Homo sapiens: one gene and its partners. The protein of the gene in region 1 interacts with the protein of each later gene in a pairwise test. Each region holds a gene or a part of one and is shown in the gene's direction. Other genes may lie near its edges. The genes, in order: NEK6, CALR, LZTS1 and PLEKHA7.

The links.
Region 2: the proteins of NEK6 (region 1) and CALR interact in binary tests that used the Homo sapiens proteins (3 or more experiments, as listed by UniProt).
Region 3: the proteins of NEK6 (region 1) and LZTS1 interact in binary tests that used the Homo sapiens proteins (3 or more experiments, as listed by UniProt).
Region 4: the proteins of NEK6 (region 1) and PLEKHA7 interact in binary tests that used the Homo sapiens proteins (3 or more experiments, as listed by UniProt).

What each region holds. Positions count from the first base shown.
Region 1 is NC_000009.12:124,309,230-124,317,608, forward strand, and holds part of NEK6 (serine/threonine-protein kinase Nek6), read left to right. Parts: intron 1-3,279; coding exon 3,280-3,420; intron 3,421-4,693; coding exon 4,694-4,756; intron 4,757-8,379. UniProt on the Homo sapiens protein: Protein kinase which plays an important role in mitotic cell cycle progression. Required for chromosome segregation at metaphase-anaphase transition, robust mitotic spindle formation and cytokinesis.
Region 2 is NC_000019.10:12,941,538-12,946,297, forward strand, and holds the end of CALR (calreticulin precursor), read left to right. Parts: intron 1-1,999; coding exon 2,000-2,092; intron 2,093-2,175; coding exon 2,176-2,376; 3' UTR 2,377-2,952; downstream 2,953-4,760. Other genes in the region: RAD23A (UV excision repair protein RAD23 homolog A), read left to right, coding at 4,412-4,483. UniProt on the Homo sapiens protein: Calcium-binding chaperone that promotes folding, oligomeric assembly and quality control in the endoplasmic reticulum (ER) via the calreticulin/calnexin cycle.
Region 3 is NC_000008.11:20,293,325-20,301,703, reverse strand, and holds part of LZTS1 (leucine zipper putative tumor suppressor 1), read left to right. Parts: intron 1-8,379. UniProt on the Homo sapiens protein: Involved in the regulation of cell growth. May stabilize the active CDC2-cyclin B1 complex and thereby contribute to the regulation of the cell cycle and the prevention of uncontrolled cell proliferation. May act as a tumor suppressor.
Region 4 is NC_000011.10:16,786,379-16,794,757, reverse strand, and holds part of PLEKHA7 (pleckstrin homology domain-containing family A member 7), read left to right. Parts: intron 1-43; coding exon 44-270; intron 271-3,555; coding exon of another isoform or gene 3,556-3,558; coding exon 3,559-3,747; intron 3,748-3,842; coding exon 3,843-3,960; intron 3,961-4,879; coding exon 4,880-4,983; intron 4,984-5,461; coding exon 5,462-5,662; coding exon of another isoform or gene 5,663-5,671; exon of another isoform or gene 5,672-7,276; intron 7,277-7,520; coding exon of another isoform or gene 7,521-7,583; exon of another isoform or gene 7,584-8,291; intron 8,292-8,370; coding exon 8,371-8,379. UniProt on the Homo sapiens protein: Required for zonula adherens biogenesis and maintenance. Acts via its interaction with CAMSAP3, which anchors microtubules at their minus-ends to zonula adherens, leading to the recruitment of KIFC3 kinesin to the junctional site.

The sequences.
Region 1 (8,379 bases):
CTGGCCTCTAATTGGGTCGGATGGACTGTGACAAGAAATGCAAATCTGGGTCATCCATATGCGTGTGAGCAGCTGGAGCCCCAGCCACCTCCACCCACATCCACCAGGAGCTTCGGCCCCACTGTGGAGCTGCACGGTGTAGCCTCCCAGGACGGGCAGTGTTGGGAACCCCGGCCAGACTCCCACTAGTCACAGTAAGAAGCCTGGTCTTCCAGGGCAAAGACCCTCAGGGACCACTTCCTCCAAACCCTTCACTGTGCCTGGGGGAAACTGAGGCCCAAGAGGGGAGGGAGCCCACCCCCATCACCAGCAGTGCAGCTGGCTCTAGATCTGACAGGGAGTTCTAGCCTGTTTCCTGATTTGCGAGATGGGATTCATAACCCTTGCTTCATGAAGCTATTAGGAGTTTGGAGACATAGAGCTGTCTAAGCAGCTGGAAACTAGCACATAGTAGGCGTCTAACGTACAACACCTCATGGTTATTTTTATGAGTACGTGCGATTCTTCTAAGTGCTCAGAAAGCCGCCCTGGCTGTTTATGAGGGTATGTGATTTTGGCTGCATTCCTAGAGGTGACGGCGTCTGAGTCACAGAGTCCCACTGTGCGCCAGGTCGTGTCAGGCACATTCCATGTGTCATTCCACAAACATGCTCCAAGCAGTTGCTCTGGGGTCAGAGCCTCAGTGCAGAGGACGTGGAGGGGACTAGACAGGGGCCCCCTTTTGAAGAGGCCGGTGGCGGGTCCTGGGGCGGGGCCTGGGGCAGGGCTCAGGTGACTGAAAGAATGGAGGCTGGAGCAGGAAGTGGCAGGCCTGGCCGGTCAGGGGGTCTTGAGTGAAAAGCCGAGGAGGGATCTGAGCTGAGAGCCCACCCGATACGGAGCAAGAGCTTGGGCACCACAGTCCCCAGTCCTGGGGTCACACCCCAGCTCTGCTGTTCTTTGCTGCCTGATCAGAACAGGTCACTGCTACCCCTCCAAGCCTCAGATTCCTGAAATGGGGACAGCAGTGAGGCCCACTCACAGGGTTGTTCTGAGGACCCAAAGAGTGGGCGCGTGGGCGGTGTCTGCACAGAGCCCAGCATGCAGTAGACACTCAGGATGCCTGCTCTTCTTAGGTGGGTGCTCTGTGTACAGGTGTATTTACCCGACAGACATTGGCACATGGTGGATAAAATCATCATCTTCCTCCTCCAGCAGCCCTCCAGATCGGGTCCTCTGGCAGGACCCACCATGAGAGGTAATTAGGCCTCGAGGCTTCAAAGTCAAGGTTGGCCCAGCCCTCACCTTGCTGTGTGCTGTGAGGCCTGGACTCCCATCACTCACTCCCGCAGGAGGGTGTTCTGTAGAGTTCCCTCAGCCAAATCTGGAAGAGACATTTTCTTTTTTTTGAGATGGAGTCTCACCGTCACCCAGGCTGGAGTGCAGTAGCACGATCTAGGCCAACTGCAACCTCCGCCTCCCAGGTTCAAGCAATTCTCCTGCCTCGGCCTCCCAAATGGCTGGGATTTACAGGCACCCACCACCACACCCGGCTAATTTTTGTGTTTTTACAAAAATTTTTTGGCCAGGCTGGTCTCAAACTCCTGACCTTAAGTGATCGCCCGCCTCGGCCTCCCACAGTGCTGGGATTACAGGCGTGAGCCACTGCGCCTGGCCTAGAAGAGACATTTTCACTTTACTTTTTTCCCTGCTTTTCCAGTGAGTTTCTATTATTCATTAAGTCATGATTCAGGGTCCCAGAGTAGGGATCACCACATAACCAGGTTCCCCTCAGGCACTCTGGGAGAAGGACAGAGGAGAAGTTGATGGACCCAGCTTAGACCTGCCCAGGAGACGTGCCCCTGCTCCGCAGGCATCTCAGGCTGAGACGCAGCTGGTCCGGCCAGCAGTTCCTGGTGTTTCCAGGTGGGGAAGCAGCTGTCAGAAGGGCCAGTCCTGTAGTTCTCGGTTTGGTCTTGATGCCTTCCGCCAGGGTGCTGGCTCCTAAAGACGCCTCGGTACGGTGCCCGGCTCAGTGTGACCCTCACCAAAGACCCACTTCATGCTAGAAAGTTGAACTGCTTGTTCTGGCTTCACTAGGGGCGGTGGCATGGAGCTGGGTGATGTGGGCATGGCTGGCCCCTCTGGGCCTCAGTTTCCTCATCAGGCAAATGGAGACACAGCCGGGCCCATCTCACCATAGGGCAGGCCAGAGATGTGGCATCCTCTCCCCTTGTCTGTCTCCTCCTTCCCTGGCCCACTGTTGGCGCCCCCTCCTGCCTTTTCCTGAGAGCTCACTGCACAGGTGTCCTGGGGTCCTCCTGGCCACTGTGGTCTCACCTGGAGGCTCCATCCCTGGGCAGGTCCTAGCGCAGGATCATGTGTTCCAATGCTGGCCCCTGCAGAGTCTTTGTGGAGCTCTGGTTTCTTCACGACACCCTAAAAAAGGCAGTTTATCTAAAGGATGGGCTCAGGGTGTAAGGCTGCACATTTTTTTGAGAGGGGGACAGAGTCTCCATCACCCAGGCTGGAGTGCAGTGGCATGATCTCTGCTCACTGCAACCTCTGCCTCCTGGGTTCAAGCGATTCTCATGCCTCAGCCTCCTGAGTAGCTGGAATTATAGGCATGGGCCACCACACCCAGCTAATTTTTATATTTTTAGTGGAGACAGGGTTTCGCCATGTTGGCCAGGCTGGTCTCGAACTCCTGACCTCTCGAACTCCCGCCTCAGCTCCCAAAATGCTGGGATTACAGGCGTGAGCCACCACACCTGGCCAAGGCTATGAATATTAACCTTGGTTTTCTTGTCTGAGATGGGGAACGGCTGCCCCAGGAAGGGAACTTGCCATTTCTTATGATGACCTGGGGCATTTTGCATGGTGGCCACGGGCTGGGGATACATGAGCTGCACCCGGCTTACCGGACCCCAGTTTGGGCATCAAGGATTCAGGAGAGGATGAGACGGGCAACGCCCGTGGTCCCACGGAGCTAGCCCCCAGGGATGGGACTCAGAGACAGCAAACAAACAAGCAGTCAGACAATGAAGGTGGTGATGAGGGCAGTGGGGAGCATGAACAGCCTCAGTTTTTCACCTGCACTGGGGGTCCTTGAGGGGACCCAGGGGACCCTGTGCAGAAAGCCCCCTGGGGGGGTGCCTGGGAGGCTCCCAGAGCAGGGTTGGCAGCAGAGTCCCTCCTTCACCTTAGAGGGTGCTGTTGGGGTGCTGGGCCTCTAGGGGTCGTCCCCAGGCCTCTGCTGCAGCCTGGCTGCTCACGGAGGCCCTCTGTCCCCCGTTCCAGAGGCATCCCAACACGCTGTCTTTTCGCTGCTCGCTGGCGGACTTCCAGATCGAAAAGAAGATAGGCCGAGGACAGTTCAGCGAGGTGTACAAGGCCACCTGCCTGCTGGACAGGAAGACAGTGGCTCTGAAGAAGGTGCAGGTGAGCTGACAACCCGTGGGGTCAAACCTGCATCTCGGGAGGTGGTCTCTGCATCTGGACGGGGTGCCCGGGCCAGTCCCTTCTCTCCCCTCTTCTGTGAACGAGGGAAACAGCACTCAACTCACTGGGTTACAGAGAGAACCAGGTGGACTCCTATTGATGAAAGTTCACTGTGAACTGCAAAGGAAAAGAAAAACGAGCATGCATTGAGCGCCTGCTGTGTACTGGGTCATGCAAGGAGCACATGGAGCCTCTCAACAGTCCCGTGGGTGGGGATTGTCATTTCATCTCTCAGATGAGGAAAATCTCATAACCGCCAGGGCCCCAGCATGAGTCTTGGGGGAGCTGAGGTTCATACCATGTCCACCCATCCTTGCGCCTGCGGTTGCTCCACAGTTCTGGGCTTCCTGCCTTCTGCGTCCCTCCTAAATGGAGGAAGTAGGTCAAGCGGCAAAGTCAGGACAGGAGCCATGTCCATGAGAGCCGCTGGGCCCGTCTGAACACAGCTTTGCCGGAGGAAATGGCTTTAAATCCTCCAGCAAAGCTTCCCAAGCCCCTTGATTTGCTTACTTGTCCTTAAAGAACAAGATTGAGAGCCTGGGCAGAGGAGGGCCGGGAGAGAGAATGGCGTTGGGGAAATGGGGAGAGAACACCCGCAGCTTCAGGGCGCTGGAGGAGTAGCAGGGTCCTCTCTGTCCAAAAAAGGACCAGTTTCTCTCTTGATCTTGTTTTTTTTTTGAGATAGAGTCTCAGTCTATCACCCAGGCTGTAGTGCAGTGGCGTGATCAGCTCACTGCAACCTCTGCCTCCCGGGTTCAAGCGATTCTCCTGCCTAGGTCTCTTGAGTAGCTGGGACTACAGGCGTGCACCACCACACCCAGCTAATTTTTATATTTTTAGTAGAGACGGGGTTTCACCATGTTGGCCAGGCTGGTCTCGAACTCCTGACCTCAAGTGATCCACCCACCTCAGCCTCGCTGGGATTACAGGTGTGAGCCACTGTGCCTGGCCCGCCCTCTCCATCTTCTGGGGAGGGGCTCACCTGGGCTCTCTGTCTTGGTTCTTTAGTGCCACGATGGGTTTTGTGGTGGGACAGTGCTGGGGGGACCCACAGTGAGCAAGCCCTACAGGGGCTGGGAGTGCAGGGGGGGGTCACAGAGTCCCTTGGTGAGGAGGTGGGAGAGCCGGGACTGGAAAGCAGACCCCGTGGCCTCCTTTGGGTCACTGGACACAGATTGTAACCACTCTATTTCTCTTTTTCCTCCCGCCCAAGATCTTTGAGATGATGGACGCCAAGGCGAGGCAGGACTGTGTCAAGGAGATCGGCCTCTTGAAGGTGAGCACCCTGGGCCGAGCGGGAGCTTTGCCTCCTCGGGGAGGTTCTGGGGCCGCGGCTGGGCCACATCATGTCCATCACAGCCCTTGGGTGCCAGGAATCCGCAGCCCCTGCTAAGTTAACAGACGATAGCTTTCTAGGGGCAGCGGCTAGTGAGTTTTCTCCTGGCCAGGCAGGAGCGGCCCGCCTCATCGCTCTGCCCAGCCCTTGGGGTCGCTGCCTACAGCCTTTCCTCCTTGCTGCACGCCCCTCCTGCTTGTACATGGCAGTACCCGGCATAGAAGTCCTTCCCCACAGGGCAGCCCTGACCCTGCCTCGCAGTGGCCTATGGACCAGGCTTGGCTAGGGGAGGAGTTCATTGTGGGGACCACATCCAGACTGCAGCCTGTCTGGCTCTGCCTCTGTCTCTATGTCTGTCTCCCTGTTTTTCTCTTTCTCATCCTCTTTCCATCTCTCCTCTCAGCCTTTTTCTTTGGTTTTGTTGGTAGTGGTGGTGGTGGTGGTGGTGGTGGGTTTTTTTTTTATTTTAGAGGCAAACTCTGTTGCCTGGACTGTAGTGCAGTGGCATGATCATAGCTCACTGCAGCCTCAAACTCCTGGGCTCAAGCAATCCTCCCGCCTCAGTCTCCCGAGTAGCTGGGACCACAGGCGCATGCCACCACACCTGATTTTTATTTTTTATTTCTTTTGTTTTTTTTTGAGACAGAGTTTTGCTCTTGTTGCCCAGGCTGGAGTGCAGTGGCACAATCTCTGCTCACTGCAATCCCCACCTTCTCGGTTCAAGCAGTTCTCCTGTCTCAGTCTCCTGGGATTACAGGCACCCACCACCACACCCAGCTAATTTTCATATTTTTAGTAGAGACAGCGTTTCACCATGTTGACCAGCCTGGTCTCAACCTCCTGACCTCAGGTGATCCATCCACCTCAGCCTCCCAAAGTGCTGGGATTACAGGCGGGAGCCACCGCACCCGGCCCCCCATGAAACATACTGGATTTGCTCGGCAGTTTCCAGCAAAGTGGGACTGCTGGTGGCAGGGCTGCCCGCCGAAGCCACAGCTGCAGAATTTCAGATTAGCAGTTTTTTCTGCCACACGCTGCCCTGTGTTCTCAGGCCTTGGCCCTGCTCTTGGGGACTTCCAGGCTGGTGGGGAAGCAGGTAGGAAGCAGATGGTGACCTTCCAGGGTGATGCAGATTGACTGGTGGGCCAGGAGCCCCAGGGAAACCCGCTTCCTGGGCAGGCCTCACAGAGGGCAGGGCACCATCCCAGAATCTGGAAGGCCGAAGTGAGCCTTCTTCCAGGCACCGCAGCACCGTGGATTATGGGAGGTTGGGGAGACAGAAGGCTGGACATGGCAGCAGAGCCAGATACACACTCAGAACAAAAGGGGAGCCCCTGAAGTGGCTGCAAGTCGGGGGGCCATGGCTGGGTGTGAGTTGTGAGTGCCTGCTCTGGTGGCCCCCGGCCACAGTGGGTGAGGGAGTCAAGGCTGGAGGCAGGAGGTGTCCTTACCACTAACTATTATAGGTCAAAAAATATCCCTCGAAAACATTGTTTAAATGTTTAAGTAATGGTCAGCTTGCTGCCACTTACCCAGCCCTGAGGAATGTTTGTCCTGATCACCCATTGCCCCCTCCCCACCTCATGTGCCCTTCTCCCCGAGTGAAGGAACCCACAGGTGAGCATGCTGAGCACAGCCTGGTCTGGTCCCTGGTCACACAGATGTGCCACCGCAGCCCCTGCCTTGCAGGAGCCTGAGCCTGGCGTAAACCCACATGGCTGCAGAGGGGATTTGGTCCCTTCTCCAGGGCTGCCATGCAGCCAAGGGCACCAAGCCGGGGTTTCAGAGGACACACCCCTCGCTCACTAGCTGTGTGGCTGCAGGCCAGCCATGGGCCTCTCAGGACCTCAGTTTCCTCATCTGTAAAGGGGGCATGATGACAACAGGGACGCTGGAGGAGTCAGTGAGGAAGCATGTCTGACGAGCTCAGGGCAGCGCTGGTGTGTGGTACGCTCGCCGCCCAAGGCAGCCCAGTTGTCATGGTTGCCACCTCTGCCCGCCAATGCCAGCCGCCTTCCCGAACACGGGTCCCACTCCACAGGTAGCCCATGGGAAGTCAACAGGATGTGCCAGGGCACGAGGTGCTTCCTACAAAACAAAAGGAAACGTGGTTTTCGGAGGGGTGACTGTTGACATATCACATCATTCATGCAAAGAACCCAAACCCAAAACCTCTCAAGTGCGGGGGCTGGTGGGGTCGGCAGCTGCCAAGCGTGGGACAAGAAGGTGGGTCCTGTTGGAACGCAGGCGTGTGTTCATTCATTCTGTGCAATTTCTGATCACCACTGAATGCTGGACACCAGGGTGCAGCCCAGTGGAGAAGACAGATCATAGACACTCTGTGTTACATCCGGGAGGGCCTGGAGCTTGGGAGCAGAGCCCCTGATGGCAGAGATTCAAAGGACAGGGACCCTTACTCTCAGCTCTCCCTCCCTTCCCTCTGGCCACCACCACAGCCAGACAAAGCCCAACCACATTGCGTCTTTGCAGCACCTTCCCTGTCCCTGACCCAAGTGTGTCCCCTTCCAGACCCACCTGGGCCCACCAAGAGGCCACAGGCTGTGAAGTGGACTCCATGTGGACCAGGTTCTAGACTCAGCTCGGCCCCTGCTTGCTGTGGACCCGTGGCTGATCCCTTCCCCTCTCTGGACCTTGGCGATTTAGCCCAATGGACGTCTGGAGCCCCTTTCTGCCTGTGCCTGTGTAGACTGCCTGGGCATTTAAGGGAGCCCTTCCTTAACCCCCTGCCCTCAGACGTGCAGGGAAATGGGGGAGGAGTCTCCCTCCTCCCCTCCCCAGGAACCAGCGCCTCCTTGATGGGGCTTTACTTCCTACCCAACCCCTCTCATTTCTCCCTTGTTGGAGAAACTGTGTCATGCCTGGACTGCTGATGACCTGGGCAGTTTTTGGGGAGTCCTCCCTGAGAGGTTGTGAGATTTCCTGGTGACATAATGAGGTGAAGTTCAAGAGGAGGGTGAAGGAGCAGGGTGTTCCCATTTATCCTCATAGCAGCTTGCCCACGCCGTAGGTCATGTCTCAGAGATTTGAAGGCACTTTCAACTTGCCATTCACTTGCTTTGACACTTTTTTTGGTAACTGAAAAACATGTCTATGGAGCATGATGTGTGCTGAGGGCAGCGATGTGATGGCCAGTGTTCGCGCAGGACGTCCTTTTCAACACAAAATCTGGGCAAGAGGATTTTCTTTTCTTTCTTTCCTTTTTTGATAACAGGGTCTCGCTCTGTCACCCAGGCTGGAGTGCCGTGGTGCGATCTCGGCTCACTACAACCTCCGAGTAGCTGGAATAACAGGTGTGCACCACCACACCCGGCTAATTTTTGTGTTTTTGTAGAGACGGGGTTTCACCATGTTGGCCAGGCTGGTCTTGAACGCCTGACCTCAGGTGATCCACCCGCCTCGGCCTCCCAAAGTGCTGGCATTACAGACATGAGCCACCACGTCTGGCCCACCTTCTTTTTTAAATTTCCATTTTTATTTTAGATTCAGAGGGTACACATGCAGGTTTGTTACAAGAGTATATTGTGTGATGCTGAGATTTGGGC
Region 2 (4,760 bases), on another chromosome or scaffold:
CTCTGCTCACTGCAAGCTCCGCACGACCCCCCAGGTTCACTCCATTCTTCTGCCTCAGGGTCCCGAGTAACTGGGACTACAGGCACCCCCCACCATGCCTGGCTAATTTTTTTGTATTTTTTTTTTTAGTACAGACATGGTTTCACCGTGTTAGCCAGGATGGTCTCCATCTCCTGACCTCATGAACCACCCACCTTGGCCTCCCAAAGTGCTGGGATTACAGGCGTGAGCCACCTCACCCAGCCTTTTTGTAGAGACAGGGCTTCATGTTGCCCAGGTTGGTCTCGAACTCCTGGCCTCAGGTCATCTGCCCGCCTCGGCCTCCCAAAGTGCTGGGATTACAAGGGTTAGCCACCATGCCTAGCCTCTACAAAAACTTTAAAAATTGGCGAGATGTCATGCATACCTGTAGTCCCAACTACCAAGGAAGAAGGATGATCACTTGAGCCTGGGGCATCGAGGCTGCAGTGAGCCATGATTATGTCACTGCACTCCAGCCTCGGTGACAGAGTGAGACCCTCTCAAAAAAAGTTGGGACTTGGCCGGACACAGTGGCTCACACCTGTAATCCCAGCACTTTGGGAGGCCAAGGCGGGTGGATCACAAGGTCAGGAGATGGAGACCATCCTGGCTAACATGGTGAATGAAACCCCATCTCTAGTAAAAATACAAAAAATTTGCCAGGTGTGGTGGTGGGCGCCTGTAGTCCCAGCTACTCGGGAGGCTGAGGCAAAAGGATGACGTGAACCCGGGAGGCGGAGCTTGCAGTGAGCTGAGATCATGCCATTGCACTCCAGCCTGGGTGATAGCGAGACTCTGTCCCAAAAAAAAAAAAAAATGCTGGGACTGAATTTTTGTCTGTTTTGGTCACTGAAATACCTTCTGTGCCCAAGACAGTTCTGGCATGTAGTAGGTACCTGAAAAATACCTGAATAAGAGAGTGAGAAACAAGAAACAGGTGCAGAGAACTGAAGTCAGTGGCCCAAGGTCATGGGGGTAGGAAACCACAAAGCTGGGGTTTGAACCTGGGCAGTACAGCACCTGAGTCTCTCCATCTTTTTTTTTTTTTTTTTTTAAGACAGAGTCTTGCTCTGTCACCCAGGTTGGAGTGCAGTGGCTTGATCTCGGCTCACTGCAGCCTCTGCCTTCCAGGTTCAAGTGATTCTCATGCCTCATCCTCTCGAGCAGCTGGAATTACAGGCATGCGCCACGACGCTGGGCTTTTTTTTTTTTGAGATGGAATTTCACTCTTGTTGCCCAGGCTGGAGTGCAATGATGCAATCTCGGCGGCTCACCACAACCTCTGCATCCCAGATTCAAGCGATTCTCCTGCCTCGGCCTCCTGAGTAGCTGGGATTACAGGGATGCGCCATCACAGACCCCGGGCTAATTTTTTTTAGTAGAGACAGAGTTTCACTATGTTGCCCAGGTTGGTCTCGAACTCCTGGCCTCAAGTGATCCGTTCGCCATGACCTCCCAAAGTGCTGGGATTACAGGCATGAGCCCGTCCCGTCCCTGGCTGTCTCTCCATCTTTCCATCTTTTTTTTTTTTTTTTTTTTTTTTGGAGATGGAGTCTCACTCTGTCACCCAGGCTGGAGTGCAGTGGCACGATCTTGGCTCACTGCAAGCTCCGCCTCCTGGGTTCACATCATTCTCCTGTCTCAGCCTCCCAAATAGCTGGGACTACAGGCACTTGCCACCACGCCTGGCTGATTTTTTGTATTTTTAGTAGAGACGGGGTTTCACCGTGTTAGCCAGGGTGGTCTCGATCTCCTGACCTCGTGATCCGCCCACCTTGGCCTCTGGGCGAGGATTACAGGCGTGATCCACCTCACCTGGCCTCTCCATCTTTTTAACTGCAGTGTCAGCGGTGTTCCTTGTCTTCTCTGCAGATGCAGGCAGCAGAATATAGTGGTTATAGGAACACAGGTGGAAACCCTGTCCAAAGCAAGGGCTATCGGGTATCACCTCTGACCATCCTTCCCATTCATCCTCCAGGTCAAGTCTGGCACCATCTTTGACAACTTCCTCATCACCAACGATGAGGCATACGCTGAGGAGTTTGGCAACGAGACGTGGGGCGTAACAAAGGTGAGGCCTGGTCCTGGTCCTGATGTCGGGGGCGGGCAGGGCTGGCAGGGGGCAAGGCCCTGAGGTGTGTGCTCTGCCTGCAGGCAGCAGAGAAACAAATGAAGGACAAACAGGACGAGGAGCAGAGGCTTAAGGAGGAGGAAGAAGACAAGAAACGCAAAGAGGAGGAGGAGGCAGAGGACAAGGAGGATGATGAGGACAAAGATGAGGATGAGGAGGATGAGGAGGACAAGGAGGAAGATGAGGAGGAAGATGTCCCCGGCCAGGCCAAGGACGAGCTGTAGAGAGGCCTGCCTCCAGGGCTGGACTGAGGCCTGAGCGCTCCTGCCGCAGAGCTGGCCGCGCCAAATAATGTCTCTGTGAGACTCGAGAACTTTCATTTTTTTCCAGGCTGGTTCGGATTTGGGGTGGATTTTGGTTTTGTTCCCCTCCTCCACTCTCCCCCACCCCCTCCCCGCCCTTTTTTTTTTTTTTTTTTAAACTGGTATTTTATCTTTGATTCTCCTTCAGCCCTCACCCCTGGTTCTCATCTTTCTTGATCAACATCTTTTCTTGCCTCTGTCCCCTTCTCTCATCTCTTAGCTCCCCTCCAACCTGGGGGGCAGTGGTGTGGAGAAGCCACAGGCCTGAGATTTCATCTGCTCTCCTTCCTGGAGCCCAGAGGAGGGCAGCAGAAGGGGGTGGTGTCTCCAACCCCCCAGCACTGAGGAAGAACGGGGCTCTTCTCATTTCACCCCTCCCTTTCTCCCCTGCCCCCAGGACTGGGCCACTTCTGGGTGGGGCAGTGGGTCCCAGATTGGCTCACACTGAGAATGTAAGAACTACAAACAAAATTTCTATTAAATTAAATTTTGTGTCTCCCTCCTGTGTCTCCTTCTGGGGAAAGACAGACTTAAGGAAACCCAGCAGTGGTCTTTTTGGGGGGGGGGGGGGTTTCCAGTATATCTCCTTTTTCAGCTATTGCTAGAGAGGTTGCTGAGTGTTCCACAAGATTCCAGGGACCCTTATTTACCCCATAACCCTCAAAACCAACGGGGGAATGGCTGTTGCTGCTGTAAATACTCCACATACTAACTTACTGAATCCTTGAACCTAACTGGTAAGTTTTGGTTCTGCTTATTTATTTATTTTTAAGATAGACTCTCGCTCTGTTGTCCAGGCTGGCGTACAGTGGCTCAATCTGGTTCACCCTGCCCCTTAAACTGGCCTTTTTCATGCTTCTATTCCTTTGGGGTCCTGTGGCTCAGCCCAACCCCTCTGGGATGCCTCCAGGACTGGTAGATCCAAGGGAGAATTCTGTATTTAATGTAGTGAGGCTTTGAAAGTTAACATCTTTAAATACTTCTGGGGTCAGATTAGGTATAGTACAACAAAGTACTCCTGCCCGGAGACCCAAGAATGAAAATTGTAGGTTCATTCCAAAACTCCAGATCCCTAAAGAATGAATGAGGCTACAAAATGGCACCTTGCCCCCGCTTCCAACTTAAGGTTTTTTTTCTGTGCTTGGTGGCCTTTCAGGTATTTCTAGTTTTGAGTAACTTTCACTTTGACTGCTCTACAAGGGTTCCTGCCAGGATACCCAGACCAGAATAAAACTCATTTGGGGGCCGGGTACGGTGGTTCACGCCTGTAATCCCAGCACTTTGGGAGGCCGAGGCGGGTGGATCACCTGAGGTCAGGAGTTTTGAGACCAGCCTGGCCAACACGGTGAAACCCAATACAAAAAATTATCCGGGCGTGGTGGGGGGTGCCTGTAATCCCAGTTACTCGGGAGGCTGAGGCAGGAGAATTGCATGAACCCGGAAGGCGGAAGCTGCAGTGAGCCGAGATCGCGCCACTGCACTCCAGCCTGGGTGACAGAGACTGTTTGAAAGAAAAAATTCTCATTTGGAAGAGGCAAAATGAGGTTTTTACAGAAGAAATACAAATGTCTGTAACCAGTACAGGTACATAAAAACTTTGTTAAAAATTCATTTGAGCGTGAGAGTGGGGACACCAGAGTCACTTTGCAGCCCCGTGACGTCACCGATAACGGGCATGGCGTCACTCAGGAGACCACGTGTGCGGGCCGAGCAAGAAGCCCCGCCCACAGCGCGGAGTTTAGTCTGCGCGTGCCTCGCTCGAGAACGCGCTCGTGCGCATGCCCACAAAGGCCAAGGAGGGAGTGCGCAGGTCACGTGCGCCGGTGGTCAGCGCGCGCATTGCCTGCCCCGGAAGTGGTCGGCGCGCGGCGCGGCGCGCCTGGGCGCTAAGATGGCGGCGGCGTGAGTTGCATGTTGTGTGAGGATCCCGGGGCCGCCGCGTCGCTCGGGCCCCGCCATGGCCGTCACCATCACGCTCAAAACGCTGCAGCAGCAGACCTTCAAGATCCGCATGGAGCCTGACGAGACGGTGCGGGCCGGGCCGGAGCCCGGGGGCGGGAGCGACGGGTTTCGGGGGTGGGGTGGGGGCGGGGAGGCTAGAATCCCAACGGGAGGGGCAGGGAGGACGGCGCGGGTCGGCCCTGCCCAGACCCCCGACCTGCCCGACTTTCCTGGACCCCCCGATGGTCTTTGGCCCAGCCCCCAGCCGATCGGGCGGCGCTCCTGCGCCGGTCTCCGGGCGAGGCCCCACCCCCGGGGCGCTGGCCAGGCCCCGGCTCCAATGTCAGCGCTCTCGCGGGGCGCGG
Region 3 (8,379 bases), on another chromosome or scaffold:
GATGTGCCTTTCAGTTTTGAGAAGCCGTGGGTCAGCGTGTATAGCAAAGCTATACATGGGCTCCAGACGTATATAAATGGCTTTCTAATCCTGAAAACTTATTTATATGCCTTTGCGCTTATTCAACGTTCATTTCATAAATATTCATTGGGCGCCTACCAAATGCAAGGCTCTGAGCTGTGCAGCGAGGCTAGGAAGATGAATAATGTAATGATGACAGACCTATGGGTAAGCACCTTATAGACCAGTGTAATGGATAATACCGTAACACTTAATGCCAGCCACTAAATCCACTGTGTGCCTGGAACTTTTTATTCATTATCTCATTTAATTTTCACTGCAGCCCTGCGGGGTATGTATAATTATTAGATGAGGAGAGTTAAGTAATTTAGCCAGGCTACAAAACCGAGGGGCAGGGATTTGAGATCAGCTTAGTAAGGTTCTGGACCCTGGCTCTGTCCATGTTATTCTGCTACCTTTGAACATAGAAACACTGTTTCTTCTGCATGGAATATTCCTGCCTGGTCTCTCTACCTTCTCCACTTAACTGGCTCCCACTTTTTTTTTTTTTTTTTTTTTTTTTGAGACGGAGTCTTGCTCTGTCGCCCAGGCTGGAGTGCAGTGGTGCGATCTTGGCTCACCGCAACCTCCACCTCCTGGGTTCAAGCAGTTCTCCTGCCTCACCCTCACAAGTAGCTGGGACTATAGGCGCCTGCCACCACGCCTGGCTAATCTTTTATATTTTTAGTAGAGATGGGGTTTTGTCATGCTGGTCAGGCTGGTCTTGAACTCCTGACCTCAAGTGATCTGCTGGCCTCAGCCTCCCAAAGTGTTGGGATTACAGGCAGGAGCCACCACACCCAGCCCCACTGTGGGTTTTAACCATAGGGATCAACTCCTCCAAGAAAGTTTCCTCTGTTTTTTCCTCAATTCTGAGTCAGGTACCTTCCTCAGAGTCCCTACCATCATACCAGTATATTATGGCATTTACTCACTGGCTCCTGAGGAGTCTACAAAACTCCTAGAAGCAGAGATTGCATCATGAGTTCCCAGCTCAAAATACAGTGTTGGCGGCGGGGCGCTGTGGCTCACGCTTGTAATCTCAGCACTTTGGGAGGCTGAGGCAGGTGGATCACGAGGTCAGGAGATCGAGACCATCCTGGCTAACACGGTGAAACACCGTCTCTACTAAAAATACAAAAAATTAGCCGGGCGTCGTGGCGGGCACCTGTAGTCCCAGCTACTTGGGAGGCTGAGGCAGGAGAATGGCGTGAACCCGGGAGGGGGAGCTTGCAGTGAGCCGAGATCACATCACTGCACTCCAGTCTGGGCAACAGAGAGAGACTCCGTCTCAAAAAAGAAAAAAAAAATACAGTGTTGGCTTTCAGTAGATACTATGAGTATGCCCTTAGTAAATGCTTGTTTAATAAGGTAAGGGGAAAGATGAGAGCTCTCAGAGACCTTTGGCAGGGAGCACTGTTCCCAACAGTGGATTTCTGCATGGGTGCCCTTTGCTAGTGTGGCCACTGACTTTCCTTCCTCTGTTACTGGGCCAGCTCCTTCAAGGCCTCTCCCTAGATGGGGCCATCTCAGGCCCCACCAACAGTTCGGGAGTCCGAGGGAACACTCGCCCCCACCCACTCTATCTCCAGGTCAATCAACCCACAAGCACAGTTATGGAAGGGGACCATTCTAGGTGTGACCTAGACCTGGGGTTTTAAAATCCTGCACTTTGAGCCGCCACATGGTTCCAGGGCAATGATGAGATGTTTCTGGGATTTTGCCAACAAAGAAGTATCCAACTACGTGGGGAATCTTGAGGTGATTTACATATTAGCTCTTTGAGTTTGCTGTTGAATAGATCTTTGTGCTGCTACAGTTTGAAGCCTGAAATGGACACTCCTAGGCTTGCAGTTGAGAGTGTGAATTGCTACCATGTTTGGGGAGGTAATCTGGCCATGATTTCTCCGAGGCGACGCAGTCAAGTGATTCTCCTTCCATCTCCTTTCCATCGCCCTGTTATTTCTCATATAGGAATTACTACCTGTGTTCTCGGGGCTCCATGGCGATTTAAGTTTTTCTTTTAAAGATCATTGATCAAGTTTGAAAAACTCTGCATTTCACTATTTATTAAAGGTCTTATCCGTGTGAGGTGCCAGGGAGTGGGGAATAACAGCAAAAAAGACGAAATAATGCTTAGAGACTAAAATTTGTGATGACAGTTGGGAAGAAGAACTGGCACACCTGAACCAATGACAAGTAAGTTGAAAACTGGATTGTATTAGGTTGCTGCAAAAGTAATTGTGGTTTTTGCAATTAAAATACTAACTTTGAATACAGCAGTTTCTCAGCAGGAGGCAGGTGAGCCAGAACCTTCCTTACCAGGGAGGAGGTGGCTGTGAACTGAACCTTGAAGTTGAACCTGAGGAGGGTATGAAGGGAGTCAGCGAAGCAGGAGCCAAGTTCATGGCTCCAAGATGCAAGCTGAGAGCTGAGGAGACAGGGCTCTCTCTTCCAAGAACCTTAGCCAGAGCCTGTTGCCTCCTTATGCTGGGTTTGGCCAGCCACCCAGACCAAACAGAGGTGGTGCATAAAAAATGGGAGGTTTTCAACCTCTCACCTCTCACCACTGCCTCCAGCCAGCGTGCAAATTAGCCTCCAGATCCCTCCTCCCAGGGTTGGAGAAGTTGATGGGGATGTGTCAGCTACAGTCGAGCATAGCTGGTGAGCTTACGGCTAGTTAGCTCCTTTTGCCATTTGGCAAAGCCCTCTGTTTTGCTGCAGTTTTCATCCTGTGTCTCTCACACTGGTTTTTTGTTTGTTTTTTAGAGACAAGATCTTGCTGTTTCTCTCAGGATGGAGTGCAGTGATGTGATCACGGCTCAGCTTACTGCAATCTTGACCTCCTAAGCTCAAGTGATCCCCAGTCCTCTCTCCTCAGACTCCCAAGTAGCTGGGACCACAAGTGCATACCAACACACCTGGCTAATTGTTTTTAATTTTTGTAGAAATAAGGTCTCGCTATGTTGCTCAGGCTGGTCTTGAACCCCTGGCCTCAAGTGATCCTCCCACTTTGGCTTCCCAGAGTGTTGGGATTCTAGGTGTGAGCCACCGCATCCAGCCTCACACTGTTGCTTCCTGCTGGACACTGACTTCCACCATCCCTAGACTTCCTTAATGGTGATTTCAATAGCGCTTTTTACTTGTACAGGACTTTACACTTTAAAAAGTGGAATAAAATTATTATTATTATTATTTACACCTCACAACAACTCTGTGAGAAGATTCCCTTTGCCATTTGGCAGATGAGGAAACCAAGTGCGCCTTTGAAAGTTGAAGGAGGGCTGGGCACGGTGGCTCATGCCTGTATTCCTAGCACTTTGGGAGACTGAGGTGGGCTTATCATCTGAGGTCAGGAGTTCAAGACCAGCCTGGCCACCATGATGAAGCCCTGTCTCTACTAAAACTACAAAAATGAGCCAGGTGTGGTGGTGCACGCCTGTAGTTCCAGCTACTTGGGAGGCTGAGACAGGAGAATCTCTTGAACCCGGGAGGTGGAGGTTGCAGTGAGTGGAGATCACACTGCTGCACTCCAGGCTGGGTGACAGAGCAAGACTTTGTCTCAAAAAATAAATAAAAAACAAAAAAAAAGAAAGGTGAAAGAGTTTATGCAAGATTTTTAAGAGGAATGCTGAGATATGAACACCAGCTGTTCTGAGTCCCAATGTTGGGCTGTAACTACCAAGTCATTGGGGTTCACCAATTAAATGGATTTAGGCTCATCGAATTGTTGGCAAGTGTTTAATATGCAGGAAAAAGAGATTTTTAAAATTATAAGAATGCAGTTACTTTTGTATTTATTGTAATTCAAGCATGATGAGGGCATTCGAATCTTCCTCAGTTTTTCTGTGCTCACTTCACCCCCCATCTCCCTTTTCCCTAAGTGCTTGTGATGCATATATGTTAAGCTCAATAAACAATAAACTAGGGCCTGGCGTGATGGCTCATGCCTGTAATCCCAGCAATTTAGGAGGCCAAGGTGAGCCGATCACCAGAGGTCAGGAGTTCCAGACAAGCCTGGTCAACATGGCGAAATCCCATCTCTATTAAAAATACAAAAAATTAGCTGGGCATGGTGGTGCACGCCTGTAGTCCCAGCTACTCAGGAGGCTGAGGCGGGAGAATTGCTTGAACCCGGGAGGCGGAGGTTATAGTGAGCTGAGATCGCACCACTGCACTGCAACCTAGGCTAAAAAGCGAGACTCTGTCTCAAAAACAAACAAACAAACAAACAAACACAATAAAGTAGGATGTAGCTAGGATAATGGAATGTCTACTTGGCATTTGCTTTAGAGAATGAAATTTATCATATGTCAGTTCTTTCTTTATAGCTTGTCAATTCAAAAGGTTTAGTCCACTCCATGTTGAAATTAGAGCAAATGTTGCCTCCACAGAATTTGAATTAATGACATTTCATTGGAATACCAACCTTAATTGCATAATATATTTCAGTGTTTCCACCTTGTCCATGAGCAAGTACGTTCTGAACTAAAATGGGATAGCAGTCTCTTCACTGGTAGCTCAAGCAATTTGTGGAAACCAGACTTCAGGGGCAATCACACATGGAGGCTGCCCCCAGGGGAGAAGAGAATTGGATGGAGCATCGTGGGAAGGAGGGGAGCGAAGGGAGGCGGAAGACGGAGACAGAAGACAAGCAGAGAGGGAATGTGTGTGTTAGCTAACAGCTAAAGCTAATTGATCTAATCAATCCAGCAGAGAGGTGATTTTTCTTACTAAGTGACAGGCCAAATCGGTGTCTGAACAGATGTGATGTGGGTTGCGTCCAGCACCTGGAACAAAGACAGCAAAGAGCTGCCCCATGGAGATCGCCAATAGATGTGCTTCATGTCAGTTAATCATTGTGGGAGAAGATAGGGCTGCCTTCAGGCCAGTGCCAGAGCACATGCACACACATGCACACACGCACACATACACACATACACACGCACACACACGTATCCATTTCATTCATCCACTCTCATTGTCTCTCCCTCTGAGACGTGCTTTCTTGTGATACCCAAACTCACAAGCCCAAGTACATCACATTACACAAATCTTCAGAGACTCCCAAGATGTCAGGACCCGGGAGATCCACACCTCTGCCTACCTGGGCTGGCCAATCTGTGGCATGGTCTGAGGTGAGCTCAGACAGCCCCCTCCCCGATGCCATGCCTGGGGCAGTCTTTAGGTGGCCACGAACCCATTAGAGTTACAGATCCTCTGGAGGAAGAGGATGGGCCAGTCTAGGTGAGACTTTCAGCCTAAGAGGGGTACAAGAACTGGGGCCCCTCAAGGAGGTTGAAAGTGGAGGTGAGATGGGGTTGGGAGTGGGCATTGTTCTCAAACCCTCCCATTCCTGTGCATGAATCTGACCTCACAGAATAACCTCTCAGGTGGCTGAGGCCATCCCCGCCCAAGGCATCAGGGCAGGGCTGTGCACTTGGCTCCCTGGCCTGTTGGCTTGGGGGACATTTTCACTCTTCTTGCTGCTGCAGAGCCATTTGCTGCTAAATCACCCTCCTCTTGGCACCATGGACTGCTAAATTGGTCTCAACTTGCTGTACTTCCACCCACCACCTTAGTCATTATTCGCTGGCAGCATTCAGAGAGTGGGTGTAAGGCAGCCGAACATTATATTCCTGCTGTAAAGAGGGAGAATTGAGTATAGACATGCAAGGAGAGGGGAGAGAGGGAAGGAGGGAAGACAGCGTGAAGGAGGCAGGGAAACAAGGCCTGGGGTTTGCCAGCACCTTTCCCTGGTGACCCCAGTGACACTGGATTGGGGGGGCATTATAGGTGAGTGGGTCCTGGCTCAGTGGGAGGAGACAGAGGGGTCCACCTGCTACTGAGTGTCTTCCCACCCCTGGTCTGGAGGCAGGAAAGGACATTAGCCATGGGAAGAGAAGGGTTCTGCCCTCTGTGAACTCCCTGTTCCTTGAATTCTACAGTGTATAACGTACTTGTCACTCCCATTTGAGCACTTGTTCCCATGTATTCATATTTAGCTTTTTATCTCTATCCTCCCTCCCAGCATAGGTTATAAGCCCCTTGAAAGAGAATGTGTGTCCCGCATCTGATATATAGCACCAGGCCTTAGGAATGGTCTAGGGCTCGGTCCCAAATGGCAGAGATGGATGGCGCTAAGGCCCACAGTGCTTCTTTCTACCCAGCCACTTCAGATCTCTCTGTGCCACTCAAGGGCCACAGAAATTGGAAAGCCAGGCAAGCAAGAGGAGATGGAATCACAAGGGAATCTACAGGGCTTGGTCTGCAATCTCAGTGGGAAACTCCAGGGAGGGAAAGGGTTACACTGCAGAACAGACCAGCCAGGAAAGCAGAAACTTAAGAGACCTGTGGTCCTTGTGCAGAAGGCTGGGGGTGATCTCCACCTGGCACATGGGCTCTCCTGATAGCTCATCCATTGCCCAATGCCCAGGCATGGTGCCGGGGCTGGCAGGAGGTAGGAAGCAGAATCGGTTCTCACATCGGGCAGCAGTGACAGCGTCAGGCAGGGCAGACTGACCTTGACAGGAGGCTCCCTGAGTCACTGATAACATTTGTTTGGGCACCCAGGGAGAGGTTAGAAAGGGAACTCATGCCATCCCAAGCTGGCTTGGGACCTCTTGGGGCCCCCAACCCAGGCTCCTTGCCTCCCACACTCTGCTTGGGGGAGATAATAGGAAAATGCCAAGAACAGAAGCCTCCCTAGCTAGGGAGATGGGGAGACTCTTGAGGGATATGGGGATGAGCCCTGAGGCTGCCCTTGACCTTCCAGAGAGGCAGCCCCATGCCTGGTGTCTGTAGGTACCTGTGTGGGGTCTGCCCTCCCCTCTGTCTCCCATGGTCATCCCCAGCAGAGGTCCAGAAGGACAATCTACACACTCAGGGTAGCTTCCCTTATTTATTGCAACCTTCAGACACTCCAGCTTGAGCTCTTCCCTGCTCCCCGCCACCCCCAAAGGGCATTTCCACAGTGCAAGGGGAGGAGGGAGGGAAGCATGGACTGGACAGCGCACACATCTTGAGGAGACAGCCTCCCCCTCCTTGCCTATCAAATTCCCCCAGCCCCAACGCCTCCGTGGCCCCAGCAGACAAACCACACTGCAGGCAGGTGGGGAAAATGAGAGGAGCCAGGCGGAGCCCCCAGCCTCCACCTGCACTGTAAAGCGAGCCGGCCCCTGAAGGAGGCCTGGGAAGGACTCCCCAGCTGCCTTCGGCTCCTCCCCTTGCCAGGCCCGCAGCTGGCCCTGCTCAAAGGCTGTGCAGCCGGCTGGTGGCTGGTGGGGCAGGTGTGGGCAGGATGCGTGGCTATTCCCAAGACAGGATTTCTTCATCTATCAAACTAGAAGCACCAGGCATTTGGCTTCTCTGGGCTTCCACCAGTACCTCGGACATCTGTTGACTTAGAAACTTTTTCTTGATGTTGGACTTACTTCTATTCTAGAGCCGCAGACAGGACCTCCAACTCTAGGGTCCTAAGATTTGTCAGGACACAAAAGAGCCTGTGCTGAAAAAACTTCAGATACTCTACATGCAAACACAACACCTCAGGGTTGAAAGGATGCTTAAAAACCACTCTATCCATATCCTCTCCCTGTCTCCCCTACACACACACAAATACTCACTGCCAAGAACTTTTATTTCACACCTCAGGAACCCAGTTCTTTCCATTTTCTTTTTTCTTTTTATTTTATTTATTTATTATTGTTATTTGTTTTTTTGAGGCAGAGTCATGCTCTGTTGTCCAGGCTGGAGTGCAGTGGTGCAATCCCTGCTTACTGCAGCCTCGAACTCCTGGACTCCCACATCAGCCTCCCTGGTAGCTGGGACCACAGGTGGGTATCACCATACCTGGCCCATTTTTAAATTTTTTTGTAGAGATGAGGTTTTGCTACATTACCCAGGCTGGTTTTGAACTCCTGGCTTCAAGAAATCTCCCCAGTCCAACCTCCCAAAGTGCTGGGATTATAGGCGTGAGCTACTGTGCTCCATCTCTTTCTATTTCAGCTCCATCCTTTGAAAGTCACAGAAGGCTAGGTTCATGTCCAGCCCTGTGCTACGCTCAGGTGCAAGATGAGCAACCACAGACCCTGCCACAACGAGTCACTTGTCTGGTATTGGGGGTGAGACAAAACATCCAGAAAAACATCATTCTACAAAACAGAATCAGCACCGAGTCTTCATGGAAGATACAGAGCTGGAGAAGAGCCCCAAGGGCTGGGTGTGATTTCCAGGCAGACGAAGTGGAGGGGTGGCCATGATAGGGAAGAGCAGGTGGTGGGGAAAGAAACCTTTCTAGAAAGGCACGTTGGAGTCAGA
Region 4 (8,379 bases), on another chromosome or scaffold:
TCTTTGTTCCATCCCGTGCTTTGTTTCCTTCTATGCCCCTTAGAGAGAAAAACGGTGCCTTTGTTTCCTCACCCGCCTGTGCCTTCACTCTCAACTTCTGAGAGCAAGCCGCCCCCACAGCCCAGTCCTCCCACCAGCCCTGTGCGGACCCCTCTGGAGGTTCGACTCTTCCCCCAGCTGCAAACCTACGTGCCGTACCGACCTCACCCACCCCAGCTGAGGAAAGTGACATCCCCCCTTCAGTCACCAACTAAGGCGAAGCCCAAAGTTGTAAGTAGTGATAACTAGGAGCTGAATGCCATTGTTTCCTCTCTGTCCTCAGATTACCTTCTCCTGGGAGAGAAACTCCTGGGAAAACTTGGGGAAATGGACCCAGCCAGCGTCCTAAAGGAGTCCTTAGTCACAAGCAGTTAAAAAGTAGTATTTCCCTGCTATTGTGCCTTAGACTGTCAGAACTGGAAGAGCCCTGGAAGATGATCTAACCCAACTCTCCCATTTTGCAGTTGGGAAAACTGAGGCCCACCAAGAAGAAGTGAGCGTGCTGAGTAGGGTGGAGTTTGTGATCTGCAGAGAGGTGTGTGGCTGTGGACGAAGCTGTCCCCATGCAAACCTTTGTGCAAATCCGCAGGGGGCTCTCCTGCAGTTACACAGCCTGTGGGCAGTGAGTTCAGTCCAGTGGAAAAGTGTCCTTCCCTTCACCCGCCGCTGAGCACTGGGCTGGGTTGTGAGGATGCTTTGATCTTTAAAATAACCTCGCAGAGTATACACAGCAAGAGCAGTATCCCCATTCCACAGAGAAGAAAACTAAGAGCCTAAATTGTTGACATTTGCTCAATGTCTCCATGCTAACTAGTGAATCCAATCACATCTCCTGGCCCTTCTCTTTTATTCTGTGCCATCTGCCATCTAATTGGGCTTTCAGTCCCAGATCCGGTCTGTGGCCTCTGTGGCTGACTGGGCCAGCACCTTGGTTTGCCTGGCATAGAAAGGGGCCAAGCTCTTGGCAGAGTCTGGGAATGCAGGAGACTTTAAAGAAATAGGAGATGTGGTCAGGTCCCAAGAGAGCTCACGCCTCCAGGGCCAGGCCAGCCTTGGCTGGAGAACACAATGAGGCTGGTCCCAGTGCAGGGAAGCCATAGAAGAGTGGACCTCGGAATGGGGCCCTCCAGATTTTTGCCAACAAAGGCTTGGAGGAGACTTACCTGGGCATTGTGTGTGCCTGGACCTCTGATGAGGTCAGTGCACAGTGCTGGGTAAAACACATGAGTTCTGCTGCCCTGGTCTTCACCATCTACCTGCTTCCAGCCATAGTCCAGGGCCCAGAGCTGGACCCAGGATATGGCCCAGCACCCAGCCAGAGAGTCACTGTGGATTTCAGCATCTTGAGATCTCCTTCCCAATCCCAGATCCAAGAGGTGGACTGGAGCTCTAGCCCTAAAACAGGAGAGGGAAAATTCCAAAACAAACAGCAGGAATGTCTGGGGCAGATGGCTGCCAACATAGGGCAGAATGCTGCCAGCTGGGACAGGGCGTAGGGGAAAAAGGCACTGGCATAGGAGCTGGGACACCCAGATTCCGGGACTGATTCTCTCACTGTGTCCTCAGGCAAGTCCGTCCCTTCCCTGAGCCTCCTCATTTTCCCTTTTGTAGATGGTCACAGAGGCTCCTCCTCAGCTTGGTCATCTGTGGCTCTCAGGCAGGGCTTTCTCAGCTTGGGTGAGCATCAGGATCACCAGGAGAGGTCCTCTCTCCTAGGAATATATGTGTGTTTGCCAGTTTTACCATTTGTTTTATTACTTACTTGTTTTTAACACTTATAAGATGGGCGTGGTGCTGCTTGCCTGTCGTCCCAGCTACTGGGAAGGCTAAGGCAGGAGGATCATTTGAGCCCAGGAGTTTGAGGCTGCAGTGACCTGTGATTACACAACTGCACTCCAGCCTGGGCAATACAGCAAGACCCTGTCTCAAAACAAAATAAAACCCATTTATATTTGTGAAACAATAATATCCATCCTGAAAATGACATAAAACAGGATTATATAATTTAACAAATAACAATAAAGAGACCACCTGTTTTATACCAACAGCTAGACTAAGAAATAGAACACTGCCAGCAACCAGAAGCCTGTGGGTTCTTTCCCAGGCCAAGCTGCTTCCTGTCTGCCAGAAGTAACCACAATCTTGACTTTTTGGATAATAATCCCCTTGCCTTTTTTTTTTTTTTTAATTTTAGTACCTGTGTTGACTCCTAAACACTGTGATTATGCTGGTATATAATTCTATATACTATTTTGTGTCTTGCATCTTTTCTTCAACATTATGTTTGTGAGATTTATATACATTGTTGCATGTGGCTATAGTTCTTTTATTTTTATTTGACTTATTTTCTTGAGTTTAATGTCTTTTTAAAAATAAATTAGATAATATTCTCAAAAGATACAAAAGCAAAAGATATAAAAAAGTACATAATAACATGTCTCCTTCCCACCCTCTGCCTCCAGACATTCCATTCAATCAAAGGCAATCAATGTTTTATGTTTATCTTTCTGGGGAGCTTTTTAGAAATTGGTGATTCGGATATCTTGTCAGGATTGGAAACTGTGGATCCTCAGAGAACCAGTGCGTATCTTAGGCAGATGGCTTAACTTTCACACATCAGTGAAGATTGTTGATAAACCTTTGCTTTGGAGTGCTCTTTCCTGAACTTTCCAAGAGCTTGGAGTGCCCTTTCCTGAACTCTGCAAAATTCTTAAAAACAAAACCAAATTAGACCGAGAAAGAGGGAATTTAGGAGGTGGAAGGCATGATGGTCGTTAGTCCTGCGAGTGGGTGTTCATGGCAACCAGGGGCCGGTCTGTTGATATGTAGAGGAACCACAGCCCTCACAGAACACTGTGGACAGGGAGTTTCAAGGAAAATGTTGCATTCATCACATTCTAGGGAATGAACTGCATGGTAGGCAGTGAGTCACTCATCCTGACCGCCTGTTCTGTCTGAGTCAGGAAGGAGGAAATATTTTGTAACCATGCACATTTCTGATAGAAAGGCCAGGAGGATGTAGACTCTGTCCTTGTTCAGGTCCCCACCTTGCTGAAGGCGCCAGAGCTCGTGTAGGGCCAATGAGCCGGCTCAGGCTGAGCACTGCTGAGTGGGTAGATGTTACTCTCCAGGTAGGTGGTGCTGTGATAAGCATGGAAGTCAGGGCAGGGTTAGCAGCCTGCCTGCGATGTGCACTCCAGATGAGCGGAGGGAGCAGTTCAGCACAGCACCGAGGGCATGGACCCAGGAGACCTGAGTCCTGGGTTTCAGGACACAGTTATACAGGTAACACTTGGAGGAATAGAAACTGTATACCTCTGAGGGGATAGAGGAGCAGAGCATGTCCCTTCTTCACTGCTCCGCCAGGGGAAGTGTGAGTGCTCCTTGGCTGAGGCAGTCATGTTCTGTGGCTCTGATGTGGCCTGTTCCTACCCTTTAAACCTCCACTGTGGCAGTACCTAGCAGTCCTCCCTCCAGCTCCGTCTCGCTGACCACTGGTCTGGTTCTCTTTCTCAGCAGGAAGATGAAGCACCTCCCAGGCCCCCACTCCCCGAACTCTACAGCCCAGAGGACCAGCCCCCGGCTGTGCCGCCTCTGCCAAGAGAGGCCACCATCATCCGGCACACATCTGTGCGGGGCCTCAAGCGGCAGTCAGACGAGAGGAAGCGAGACCGGGAGCTGGGGCAGTGTGTGAATGGGGATTCCAGGGTGAGCGGGGGACCCTGGGGCTGCCACTCTACATGTGGGGAGAGGTAAAGGGGTGTGACACTGGCAGGTCACATCACCTGGGACTCTGCCCACAGGTGGAGCTGCGGTCGTATGTCAGTGAGCCTGAGCTGGCGACCCTCAGCGGGGACATGGCCCAGCCCTCCCTAGGACTTGTGGGCCCTGAGAGCAGGTACCAGACGCTGCCAGGCAGAGGTAAGGCAGGGCCCTCCCTGGAGTTTCTCTGGGAATCCCACCACACTGCTTCCAGCCTTCAGCTGGTGCCTCGTACCCTTCTGCCTGCAGCTCTAGGCCTAGGAGTGAGCAGCAGCTGTCAGGGGGGTCTGGGATGCCAAGAGGGAGGACCTGGCCTGTCTTCCTCTGGCCCACATCCTGATTCTCTTCCTCTTTTGTTACATCTGTCCCCAGGAACAATGATAATAGCAGTTACTAGAAAGCCTGGCACTGTTTAAGCACTTTATATAGACATGATATTCACAACAATCCTATGAGGAAAGTACTGTCATCCCCATTTTAGAGACACAGAAACTAAGGCCCAGAGAAATTAAATAACTTGCCAATTAGCTGGTCATTGGTGGAACCGGAAGACAATCCCAGTGCTCTGGCTCCAGAGTCACTGCACCCTGTAGGCCGGAGTGCTGGGTGGCTGCCACCACCTTGGCCATCTCAGACCTTCCAGAGTGCCACTCTAAGACTCAGTGAGCCCTTTCCTTAAATGCTTTCTTGCCAGTTGAGTGTCCTTCTCACTGTCCTCCTCACCCCAAGTTGGGTTGTGCAGGGTGCCTAAGAATGGATCAGGGGGTGAAAGGCATTCCTGCCCCGCCAGCCTTTCTACCTGCCAGGCAGCCCAGTCATCTGCATGTAAGGGAAGCCTGGGGTGGTCCACAGATCTGCAGGGACACTGCCCCCCATCAGGGACAAAGGTCACCCCTGGGCTGGCCCCCATCCTCTATTGGGGACCTTGCTCCTCCATGCCCTGGGGAGGAAGAAGAGAAATAAGGGTGGGTCATTGACTGGGTGCTCTTGGTACTCCTGCAAGAATGTGTGATGAGGGAGAAGCAGGGACCCATCCACCCCAGCACAAACATGCTTGCACTTCTCTTTCCTCACTAAGGGCTCTCAGGGTCCACGTCAAGGCTCCAGCAGTCGTCCACCATTGCTCCCTACGTCACACTCCGGAGGGGTCTCAATGCCGAAAGCAGCAAGGCGACCTTCCCTGTGAGTGGCCTTGAGCTGTCGAGGACCTCCCTGCTCCTTCACATGGGGAGGGAGGGTCTCCCAGGGGGACAGTAACTGGCCATCCCTTCAGCCCTGGGGATGGCCTCTGGGGTGGCCTCAGCCCCTCCTGAGCTCCCTGTCACCCACTGTCCACCAAGGAGGGCATCCTGCCTTTCTCTCTGGCCTGTCAGGGTGGCAGGAGGGAGCTCAAGAAGCCTGCACCCTGGGTTCTGGCCTCACTGGACAGGCCTGAGCCTAAGTGTCTGCATCTGCAGAATGGGTGCTACTCAGAAAGCTCCTGAGGGTTGGGGGCATCGTGTTGCTTAGAGGAAATAGTTCTCTAAGGCCAAGAGGAGCCCAACTAGAGTGTGCATGTGTGTGAGAGAGAGACAACGGGAATGCAGCCAGCAGGGTGGCTGTCCTCTGCGTGCCCAGCCCAGCTGTTCTGTGTCTCTCTTGCCTGCCTCCTCTTCCTCAGAGACCTAAGAGTGCCTTGGAGCGCCTGTACTCAGGGGATCACCAGCGAGGCAAGATGAGTGCAGAGGAGCAGCTGGAGCGCATGAAGCGACACCAGAAGGCCCTGGTCCGAGAGCGCAAGAGGACACTGGGCCAAGGGGAGAGGACGGGCCTGCCCTCATCTCGCTACCTCAGCCGGCCGCTCCCTGGAGATCTTGGCTCAGTATGTTAGGAGGGGCCAGGCAGCGGGGCAGGGACAGGGAGCCGAGTGCCCCTCAGAGTCCCCCAAACACAAGCACATCACACCTCCCAGTGAGAGAGCTGTCCATTGACCTACATGGTTCAGAGAACACCCCACGGGGCTGTTTGTCCACGACCCAGGCTGGACGAATGCCTGGTCAGAGGGTGACCTGAACCAGAGCTGGAGTGAGGATCAAACAGGCCCAGGAGCCTGAGGAAATACCCAGTCAGTCCTCCCAGCCGCGATGGAGAGGGGCCTTTGCAGGCGTTCGGAATCTCGGCTGAATTCAGGACCTGGGAATACAGGGTTCAGAGAGGAGAGGAGGAAGATGGTGACATGATTTGGTTAGAAGCACAAGCAAACTGATCAGCCTCCCAGACCTGCCAGCAGATGCTGTGTGAGGGTGATGGAGCACGGGGTCACACCCCTGCCCCAAGGGCCACTGGTCTCCCTGGGCTTGCAGTGCAGAGGCCTCAGGGTGTCTGGGATTGCTGGGGAGGCCTGTGCTGCCCCCTGGTGGCGCTTCCTGGCGCTGCGCCCTGTCCACAGTCACCTTAGGTCCCTTTGGAAACATTCCATTTGACTTTTCCCTGTTGTTTGAAATCCCATGTTTCCCTAAACCTCTAGCCTGATTGTTCTTTCCCTAATTCATTGCACAAGCTCCTTTGCTTTTAGTGTTACCGCTCATTGCCTCTCTAATCCTGCCTGATTGTGTTTACAGAAGCTTCTGATTTGCATTGAACATGCTCTAACTGGCCTGTGCTACTTATTACCGGGCTTGTAATAGCGGTTCTTGTCTCCATAGCCTGTTGAGTGTTCCCAGATGTGACTCACCTTTCTGCTGCCCTCTTCATGCAGGCCTACTGACTCATAATTCACTTGTCCCAAAAGCCACCCCACAAGCCTGAGCCAACCTGCTGCCTGACGCCACAGTCATTGGCAGAGGTCTGGGCATTATTAATTTATAAAAATCCATGCTTTACACCTGGACAGTAGACAGGGACTTCAGAGATTGCACGTTTGAATACATTCTCCCAAGACTGAGGTTGTTCGGTTTTAATTCCTGTAGTCCAATCACACAATTTCTTATGGAAAACCTTTTGTGTTTCTGGTATTTAATAACTTGAAGGGATAGCAAAATATACTGTGTATTCAGAGGGCCTCTCTGCAGCTGCTAGCTCAGACACCAAAGGGGTAAGGCCCAGGACATTCATATCTTTAAAAGCTGCAAACCTGGTAACCTTTAAACTTTTAAAACAAATGTCATATGGGGTAACACTGACCTTTTATAATTTGATGTCTCAAATGTAGAGATTATCTAAAAATCGTAACTTGAATACCTTGTAATTTTTCTCTTAAAAAAGAAGACTTGTGTAAGTCTCTGCATCAACGCCAATAAACATGTTGCTTAATAATAATGGATTGGCGTGGTTCTTCCCCAGGATACCTTATAGAGTCTAGTGAACTTTTCCTGTTTGTGGAAACAATCAGGCTGGGTTTAAATGAGGACTTGTCTCTATTTGGAGCATTTGTGAGCGTGTAAGGAAATGAGTGTTTTCTTTGTGAATCATTAAATTGATTTTTTCATCTTTGGAACTTCAGTTGCCTAATCCTTTCCAACAATAGTTGGAAACCATCACCTAAGAGTGATTACATTGATTTGGAGTCATTGAGAGCTTGTGCATGAATGGGTGAAATGTGCGAATATGGCTCTGGGTTTGGGGTTCTGGAGGGACTTGAGGCATCAAAGACAATCAGGACCATTTGGGGCTTTGAGGTGGATGGATGGGAGAGAGAAGATGGCCTGGGATAGATAAGCATCTGCTTTGGTTTTGCTCAGGGGAAGAGAGGCTTTGAGCCTGCTCTGTTCTCAACAACCTGCTCAGCGGTCAAAGGCCTGTGAGGATGCAGGTCCTGGGTCAACAGGAAGTCACCACGGAGCTGGACAGTCATGGTTGGATCTTATCGGTTAGATTTTCCCTCTTGGGAAGCTTGTTACAAAGTTGATACTGTGAAACAGCCTTAGAAACATTCCATTTGATTTAGCATTTCAATTTTATATGATTTAGTTTTTTTTTCTAATTTAAAGAAAACATCTATCTCAAATAGATGGGTCTCATACAGCAGTTTTTCTGCCTCATTGGCTCCAAGCTGCTTTTGCTTGTACCTCCCCAGCCCTACTGTAAGTGCGAGATCCCCCACCTACGAATGTTATCTTGTTGAAAATTCCCAATAGAAAGATCCTTGGTTATTCTTCTTGCTTAGCAGGGCCTTGAAGGGCGTGTTTTTCCATTAATTCTGAGCCTGGGACGTATGTCTCCTGAACCAGCTGTAGAGAGTGGAAGGGACAAATCCCTTCTCTAGAACTCTGTCCCAAGTTGTTTGGAGGTCACCCTCTCTGGGAGCCTTCTATTTCCCTGGGGACCACTGTGAGCCTGAAGTCATGAGTCTTAGACCTGTGCCCCAAGGGTGTATGTTTGAAACCTCTGGGAACCCAGATCAGAGAGCACTTAGCAGTCTGGAACAGCCCATATGAAGGGGACAGCAGCTTCATTCTCTATTGCACATACAGCTTTTCCCTAAGGGGATCACAGGTTCATCTTCCAAAGGACCCCATGGAAAAAGGTGACCAGCCGGGCTCTTTCAGCAATCAGGAAGCGACTACGTTTAACCTCTTGTTCTGTTGCCAGTGGAAGCGT